Regions from separate parts of the Homo sapiens genome. Here region 1 is linked to region 2. The links come from fine-mapping of genetic effects on gene expression. A gene starts in region 2. The other region holds a variant in brackets. All regions are shown on one strand. Distances are between the middles of the regions. Region 1 holds the start of LOC101927623 (a long non-coding RNA gene). Region 2 holds the start of ISCA1 (iron-sulfur cluster assembly 1).

The links. PIP is the estimated chance that this variant, and not a neighbour inherited with it, causes the effect. A credible set is the group of variants that fine-mapping cannot tell apart.
Region 1: its variant is the best candidate, but not a certain one, in a credible set for the expression of ISCA1 in monocytes after LPS (Fairfax 2014, PIP 0.50).

The regions. Positions count from the first base shown.
Region 1 is chr9:86,125,566-86,129,955 of GRCh38, reverse strand. It overlaps LOC101927623 (a long non-coding RNA gene), which reads right to left and starts at 2,416. Exons shown (of 5, transcript NR_110996.1): 1 at 875-2,416; 2 at 628-726. The variant A/G (reference allele first, on the strand shown) is at 2,408.
Region 2 is chr9:86,280,813-86,285,202 of GRCh38, reverse strand. ISCA1 (iron-sulfur cluster assembly 1) reads left to right here and starts at 2,665. Exons shown (of 4, transcript NM_030940.4): 1 at 2,665-2,825. The coding sequence starts at 2,745. It overlaps LOC124902194 (a long non-coding RNA gene), which reads left to right and starts at 3,122. Exons shown (of 2, transcript XR_007061634.1): 1 at 3,122-3,234; 2 at 3,750-4,390. RefSeq lists enhancers at 2,265-2,544, 2,665-2,814 and a silencer at 2,985-3,284.

The DNA of each region.
Region 1 (4,390 bases), 160 kb after region 2:
GACCTCATGATCCACCCGCCTCAGCCTCCCAAAGTGCTGGGATTACAGGTGTGAGCCACTGCACCCAGCTGACCTTGAACAAATTACTTCTCTGTGCCTTTATTGTAGAAAACAACTTCTAGAATTGTTGCTAGGATTCAATGAGTTAACACACACATAGAACAGCTCCTAGCACATAATAAGCAGCTAAATACTTATTAGCTACTACTATAATTGGTACCAGCCATGTGACCTGGAGAGTGGGCTTCATTTCCTCATACCTCCCGGGGTCTGCCAGGTCAGATGCAATAATGGGTGTAAAAGACATTTATGTACTGTTAAGGTACATCACAAAATGTATAGTATCATCACCACAGATTTAGTTACTTCTAATGTTGATTGTTTACTGTCCCTACAGGTAAGCTTACAATGTAGGAATCTTTTTGTCTTCTGTCACTGATGCATCCTGACCTCCAAAAACAGTGCCTGGTACATAAAGCACTCAATAGAGAGTTGTTGAATTTCTTGAATGGATCAATAAATTAATGAACAACTAAATAAGTGATCCTGGCTGTCTGAGTCAGTTCAAATGGCCATAACAAAATATCACAGATTAGGTGGCTTAAGAAACAGAAATTTATTTCTTACTCTCCTGGAGGCTGAAGTCCAAAATCAAGGCACTGGCCATTTTGGTCCCTGGTGAGGGCTCTCTTCCTGGCTTGCAGGTGGCTGCCTTCTTTGTGTGTCCTTACATGGCAGAAAGACAGACAGAAAGAGAGAGGGACAGGGAGAGATAGTGAGGGCTGGTGTCTCTTCTTACAGGGGCACAAATCTCATCACTAGGGCCCCACTCTTATAACCTCTTTAACCTTAATTACTTCCTCAGAGGCCCTACCTCAAAATACTGTCACTTTAGACGTTAGGGTTTCAACATATGCATTTTGGGAGGACACAATTCAGTCCATAACACGGCATGAGTGCACACATAAATTTCCATAAACATAGAAACAAAAATTCCGTAAATTCACTGTGGCTTGTCACCTCTTGACATGAACTTCTCTGAGCTCTGGCCATCTCAGGATACCTGCACCACCACCATTAGCACCGTGGCCTTTGTCTTCTTCGCAAGGTGAGTCTCTCCCAGGTTCCCCTGACTGCAGCTCTAACAAGCCAATTGTCCAGTGTGACCAAGGAAGAAGAGTCTTGCAGATTTTAACCAAGAAAGGGAAGGTCCAGTTGGTCTTGTCAAAAGACAAAATTCCAACAAATATAGTTATAGATCTAATTGGCTTTTATTTGCAATTCATGAATCAGGGCAGCTTCCATTCTACAAAACAGCATGAGGGTTCCTGCTGGACAGCAGCAGAACAGTGGGTTTTGTAAGGTGAGAACAAGGAAATAGGAAAAAAAAAATTTTAAAGTCGGATTGGCTAACATGAGGTTACTTTTTGTGTAAAAATTAAAGCAGAGAGGACTTCCTTATTGCACTGACACAGGTAGACTGGAATCTTCTGTTCTCAAGAAAAACTAGTCTATGTTGGATCTATCTGCTTCCTTAAAGCTTCTATTTGATGACGAGGCATTTAGCATGAATGACTCCATTTTGGTTTGGTCTCGTCTGTTGGGGCCTAGTACAGGAGTTCAGTCCAAAATAACGGGCTCCCATAATTTTGTTTAACAGCCTAAACTTAAGTTCTTCAGTGATCTGAATCCTCAGCTAGACCAAAATCTTCTGCTAAGTTGCTCTCCTTTTGACTGTCTGGCTGAGCTGTTGAAGGCCACAAAATATTTAGCAGGTAAAAGTACTGTTCAGGAACTATAATAATTTATTTTGTATTCATGGTGCTTTTCTGGCTTATAGAACATTGTTAATAAGTTGCTGTAATGTGCGCTTATATTTATGAATTTATAAACATTATGAATAATGTGATGATTATTGAGAGGCATATTGCCAAATATCCATAAACTGATCATTAGTCTATCTATGTATTTATCATTGTATATAAATATGTCAGTTTTGTTTTCAGGGAAAAAACTGTTTGCAATCTATAACTTCCAGGGCTCTTATCTCTGAATTGAACATGTGCCTAGGGGTATCAAACAGAACAAGACTCCAGATAGTAAGTAAATAGTCCTTTTTCTTATGACAGCTACTTAATCTGTAACAAAACAAGCAAACATAAAAGCTAAGTGATATCTAAAGCTTACCACCAAGAAAATAAGTTAGCAACTGAACAAAGCGCCTTCCTTCAGGCTAGATCTTACATACACACACAGTATCGACTTCAAGCCACTTCAGAAGAGACTCAGAAAGCTGCTGCGCCTGGCCTTGCCCTTAGGTTTGTTAGCTTCAGGGTCACAGTCCCAGCGGGGAGCTGACCCATTAGTCACACCTGCTTCACAGCCCTGCCAGCACTCACGGGGCCCA[A/G]TGAGAAGCCACAGGCATGTTGGTAGCCAGGCCAGGAGACCCAAGGGCCACGCCCATAGTTCTACAGAGTCATGTTAACCGTGGTTGTTATGGAGACAGCCAGTGTTCTTCATGAATGTGTAGCTGTTTTGTCACTCTGCCTGGGTCCGGGGACAGGCTGGCTCGTTACAAAGGCACCCACTACTGAAGACAGGCTCAGAGGCAGGAGTGGCCCAGCCCTGCCTTGTAGATGCTGATTGAGCTCTGCTACAGAAAATGCTTGATACAAGACTGTGCACCCCACCCCCATCCCAAACATGACTTGACTCTTAAAACAGCCCTGTATAACCACAATTGGCTTGTTGCCCTTTTGTTGGCTGCACACACTGATTTTTCCACAACCTTCAAAACCCTTCCTGAAGGGTGTTGTGGAGCAAATCCCAGAAGATAAACACCGTGTGAATGAACCCAAACACAGAGGGCTGTGATTACAGACCCTAGAGCAGCCTTCGAAGTATGCAGTGTTCTTCCCTAAGGCACCACCTTCTCACTAACCAAAATGGGACTGACTGGTGCTGAGTCCCTCTCGCTTATTCTGCTGGGATGAAGCCTGCTGGATGCGAACTTTGTGCTGTGCTTTTTGTATTTGCTATTTGCAGAGCAGAACATTATTTTTTGGTGGAAGATAGAGATGTGGATATGTGAGTCCCTGCCCTCAATTAACTCATAATCTCTTGGACTCACATATTAACAATAAGAGGGTGGAATAGAAAAGCGGCTCCTAACTGATACAGGGTTAAGCCTGCGTAATGACAAATTTCAGAGCTGAACAAGCAGAGGACAAATCACTTAAATGCATGGCTTTAGAGCACTGAGGTCAGAACTACACAGCCACCAAAAAGAATGAGGCAAAGCCTGTGTGCTGATATGGAATAAGCCTAAAACACACCAGAGACTGACAAAGTAAGGAGCAGTACAGCCTGTGTGATGTGTTCCCTTTTGTGGAGAGGAGAGGGGGAGGAGGGGAGAGGCAGGGTGGGAAAATGCAGAGAATAAGCCCAGAGCATTCCTAGGAAACTGGCAACAGATTGTTTGTTTGTTTGTTTGTTTTGTTTTGAGACTGAATCTCACTCTGTTGCCCAGGCTGGAGTGCAGTGGTGCGATCTCGGCTCACTGCAATCTCCGCCTCCCAAGTTCAACCAATTCTCCTGTCTCAGCCTCCCGAGTAGCTGGGACTATAGGCGCATGCCACTATGTTCAGCTAATTTTTGTAGTTTTAGTAGTGACAGGGTTTCACCATATTGGTCAGGCTGGTCTCGAACTCCTGACCTCAGGTGATCCACCCGCCCCCGCCTCCCAGAGTGCTGGGATTACAGGCCTGAGCCACCGCACCCGACCCCCCCACCGCCTTTTTTTTAAAAAAAGCAACTTTGTTGGGGGTGTAACTGACAGACAATAAGCTGCACATATTTAAAGTATATAGTTTGATAGATGTATACACCAGCAAAACTATCATCTCAAAAAGTACACATCTTCATCCCCCTCAAAGTTTTCTTGGACCCCTTGGCAATGCCTCCCTCTTGATCTTCCCCACCCATTCCTCATTCCCTAGCCAACGCTCCAACACTGATATGCTTTCTTTCAATACAGATTAGTTGGTGTTTTCTAGAATTTTTTTTTTTTTTGAGATGGAGTCTCACTTTGTCACCCAGGCAGGAGTTCAGTAGTGCGATCTCAGCTCACTGCAACCTCTGCCTCCTGGGTTCGAGCGATTCTCCTGCCTCAGCCTCCTGAGTAGCTGGGATTACAAGCACGTGGCACCATGCCCGGATAATTTTTGTGTTTTTAGTAGAGACGGGGTTTCACTAATGTTGGCCAGGCTGGTCTCAAACTCCCGACCTTAGGTGATCCACCAGCTTATGCCCCGAAAAGTACTGGGATTACAGGCATGAGCCACCATGCCCAGCCTAGAATTTATATAAATGGAATTATACGATATTTGCT
Region 2 (4,390 bases):
GGTTTTCTTTTTTGTTTGTTTTTGTTAAATAGTGGGTATTAAATAGAGGAAAGAAGTCTGTTAAACATACACAGGATCCTGAATCAGAAAATTGAGGACTAGATGTTTTCAATAGTGTCTAATGCTCTCTACTAAAATCCTTGAGTTTCAGCATCTGTAAAACTGCCATGCCAGTGCTTCTGCCCTACTCAGTTCAAAGTTGTGAGGCTAGTATGAGATAATATAATATGCTCATGGAGTTTTCTGAATCTTGTAAAGTGCTGCACAACTGTGTAATGTGTCAATAACTGAAAAAAAAATGACAGCATCTTTTATTTTTATTAAATTTTAATTTTAGGGCTGTTTTAGGTTCACAGCAAAGTTAAGCAGAAAAACAGAACTGCATATATCCCTTGTTTCCACATGTGCCTCACTGTCACTCTGCACCACAGTGGTACACTTGTTACAATCTTAAACCTACATGGACACATCATTAGCTCTCAGTGCCCATAGTTTACCTTAGGGTTCACTCTTGGTGGTGTACATTGTGTGGGTTTTGACAAACGCATAATGATATCTATCCACCATTATAGTAGTTTCACAATACATGGCATCTTTAAATACTCATTAACAATTACCATTTGAGTGAGGCTGTGTGCCTTGCACCCCTCTAAGGGCTTCTCCTGTATTAACTCATTTAATCTTCACAATATCTGTAGGAGGGAGGATATGAGATCCCAAACCCCCAGGTAGTCAAAGATGAAGGCCAAGAAACAAACCCACCACACCACCACCTCTCTATGTCCCTCCCTCCCTCCCTTCCTCCCTCCCATCACTTTTTCAGTTTCTTTCTTTCGAGATGCAGTCTCGCTCTGTCACCCAGGCTGGGGTGCAGTGGCGCAATCTTGGCTCACTGCAACCTCCGCCTCCTGGGTAGCTGGGATTACAGGTGCCCGCAAACACGCCCGGCTAATTTTTGTATTTTTAGTAGAGACGGGGTTTCACCATGTTGGCCAGGCTGGTCTAGAACTCCTTATCTCAAGTAATCTGCCGGCCTCCGGCCTCCCAAAGTGCTGGGATTACACGTGTGAGCCACTGCGCCCGGCCCCCAGTTTCTTTTATTTTCTTTCTTTCTCTCTCTTTCTTTCTTCTTTCTATCTGTCTGTCTGTCTCTCTCTTCCTATCTTCCGTTCTTTCTTTTTTTTTTTGAGACAGAGTCTCACTCCGTTGCCCAGGCTGGGAGTGCAGTGGCACGATCTCAGCTCACTGCAACCTCCGCCTCCCAGGTTCAAGCGATTCTCCTGCCTCAGCCTCCTGAGTAGCTAGGATAACAGGTGTGCACCACCACACCCGGCTAATTTTTGTATTTTTAGCAGAGATGGGGTCTCACCATGTTGGCCAACCTGGTCTCGAACTCCTGACCTCAGGTGATCTCCCCGCCTCGGCCTCCCAAAGTGCTGGGATTACAGGCGTGAGCCACGCGCCCGGCCCCCAGTTTATGTGCAGATAAGGCTTAGGGGAAAAAAAAAAGCGTCCTCTTATTGTCAATGCGATTGCATTTCTGTAGCAGGAAGTCAGAACTACTTGATGGAATTTTGAACTATCCTTTCAGAAACTGCAGGAGATCGAAGATAAACTTGGCTTTAAAAAATGTTTCACTGATTAGTTCTTCCCACATTCAAACACTGCGAATCTGTCCTCCCCAGGACTGCTTCATAGACCCCTCCTGCCCTTTTTCCTTCACTTCTAGCACTTCAATGACAAATGCCACCTGTCTTGATGTCCTCCTCTCTTCATCTGCTAGCCCTGTCCTGCCAGTATCTCATTCTTCCCTGGCCCCTCTTTACCTGGCTTCCTGTGTATGCCTGGGTACCGCGCCTGTGCAGTGTCTGGTGCTCAGGAATACTGCATCAAAAGGCAGAATTAAGCCCCTGAGCAGCCAGGACAAGGTCTGACAACACGTTTTAAATCGAGTAATTGTTGCTCGCTATAAATGTGACTATTCACACTGCTGCCCAGTCACATTTTCAAGTAGGGTTGGTTCCCAGTTCAGCACCAGAATGAAAACTGCATTAGTCACCACCCTTCAGCATCCCCAGCAGTACAGCACGCTGGGGAGAAGGGTGGAGGGTGGCGATTATACAACTCTGCGGTAACGCCATGCTCTTAAGAACAGCCTAATTGGACCACAAAAGAAGAATGAAAATGGATGTAGATGTCTGGGCATCGGAACGATCACTCTGCATTTGAGAGCATAAGCTCCCAGTGCAGGGTTGACTTATGCGTCCTTAAGTGTCACCGCCTATGATGGTGTTTGTCACGGTGAGTATTAAAGCAGGGGGTGACGCTGCACCTTGCCCCGGGGGCAGGTGGTGAAGCTACGTGCATCCGGAGTCAGCAGGTCTGAGGTCATTCCTCGCCCCCTCCCGCCCGCTCCCCGACGTCACGCCGACTCCGTCCTCGGCGGTGAAGACATTCCTCCCGGGCCCTGCGCCCTGCAGCGTGGTAACCCCACTGCCGGAGACCGTGCGCAACCCAGCTGCTAGACCCCCGGCGTTGAGCGGCAAAACCCCGCCCCGAGCGGCTTGCCCCGCCCCCGGCTCGTCACTCATGCAACTCACCCAATGGTGGCGGCGGGGGGCGGGGCTAGGACTGAGGGCGCCGTGCGCCGAAGCTTGTGGCGTCAATGCGCCCGCCGTGTCCATGGAGAGAAGCTGAGGCGGCCGACCTTCGGCCCGAGGCACCGGGGCGCCGGGACGGCGAAGATGTCGGCTTCCTTAGTCCGGGCAACTGTCCGGGCTGTGAGCAAGAGGAAGCTGCAGCCCACCCGGGCAGCCCTCACCCTGGTGAGTGCTCGCGGCGCGCGGCGGGGCCCGTGACATTGCTCGTGTCCGCCCCGTGCAAGGGGAGGTCACGGCGGCCGGGAGTGGGGCCGCAGGGACGCGGACACGTCAGACCTCGGCGTCGCTCCGACCCGCCGCACAGCCTCGCCGCCTCCTTCGCCTCCGGCCCCTCTTTGCAACGATAAACAAGTCCCGGGCGGGGCTGCTCTCTTGGCCCCGGAAACTACGTTTCCCGTCAGGCCGCGCGGCAACCGCGTGCGGGCCGGAGGGGATCCCGGGGGTGGGCGTCCCCGGGGGCCGATCGCCTCCACACTCCTGCCGGCCTGCGCTGTTCGGCCGTTCCGGTTAAGCAGAGGCTGAACGTGCCCGGTGGCGGGGGTTCCCGGTGGTGGCCCGGAGTCCTAGCCTGGAGGTGCGTGGGGTGGGGAGGGACCAGGCTGTCCGAAGGACCGCTGTGTCGGGGCGACAGCGTTCGCAGAGGGCGAGCACAGCGACAACAAAGCCCCCGGCTCCTGCCGAGGTCACGGCCGCGGCGCGCAAAGCGTTACTTGCCGGTGTCCTGGGTGATTGAGGCCTTTGAAACTCCCTCTGTGCCTCTAGCAAGCCTAGGCTCTTAGGACAAAAGATGATTTCCCAGAGTGAGTTTACAGCCTTTTCTGGGTGAAAGGTCAAACACTCAGAGGGCACCAGAGTGCAACCATTGATTACTTAGAGAATTCACTGAGCTCAGTGTTCCGGCCGCACCGTTCAGTTTTTTAGTGGAAGGAAAATCCACATAACATAAAATTAGTCCTTTTAAAGGGTACAATTCAGTGCCATTTAAGACATTCACAGTGTCGTGCAACCATCACCTCTATCTAGTTCCAAAATACTTTCACCCCAAAAGAAAAATTTATGATCACGTTCCTACATACACTCCCCTTTTAGTGAAGGAGACGACTTTATGCAACCATTCGCTTAGAGACTGGGAAAAAAAACGATTTAAATTGACTCATCGATTCTGTTGCATCTAATGCCAAAAGGGCCTATTACCAGAAAATAAGTTTGTAGCAAAGTAGAAGAAAATTGTGATCAGGTGAGAGAATTTATTTTTATAATCAATTTTTTAGGCCTTTGATATTACCCTGATTATATATGGTACTACTAGTGTACTGATTATGTATCATTCTATATTACCTCTTTTCTGTAGGAGCAAGCTTATTTTCATACACCGTGGGATGTAGAATTAAACAAGGTTTTAAGAACTAGAGGGCACAACTCATTCTTTGTGTCTCTTTCAATCTCAGTAAGAATTATTCAGAATTCTTCCACTGGTAATGGTAGATCCAGGAAGAGCCAGAAGGTTCAGGAACAGTTTTTGCCTTTTCTTTTTTGCTTTTTAGCAACCCTATTAACTGGGTTTTTTGTTTTTTGTTTTTTGTTTGTTTGTTTGTTTTTGTTTGTTTTGTTTTTGGAGACAGGGTCTCACTCTATCTCCCAGGCTGTAGTTCAGTGGTGCAATCATGGCACACTGCAGCGTCAACCTCCTGGGCCCAAGCGATCCTCCCACCTCAGGCTCCCAAGTCGCT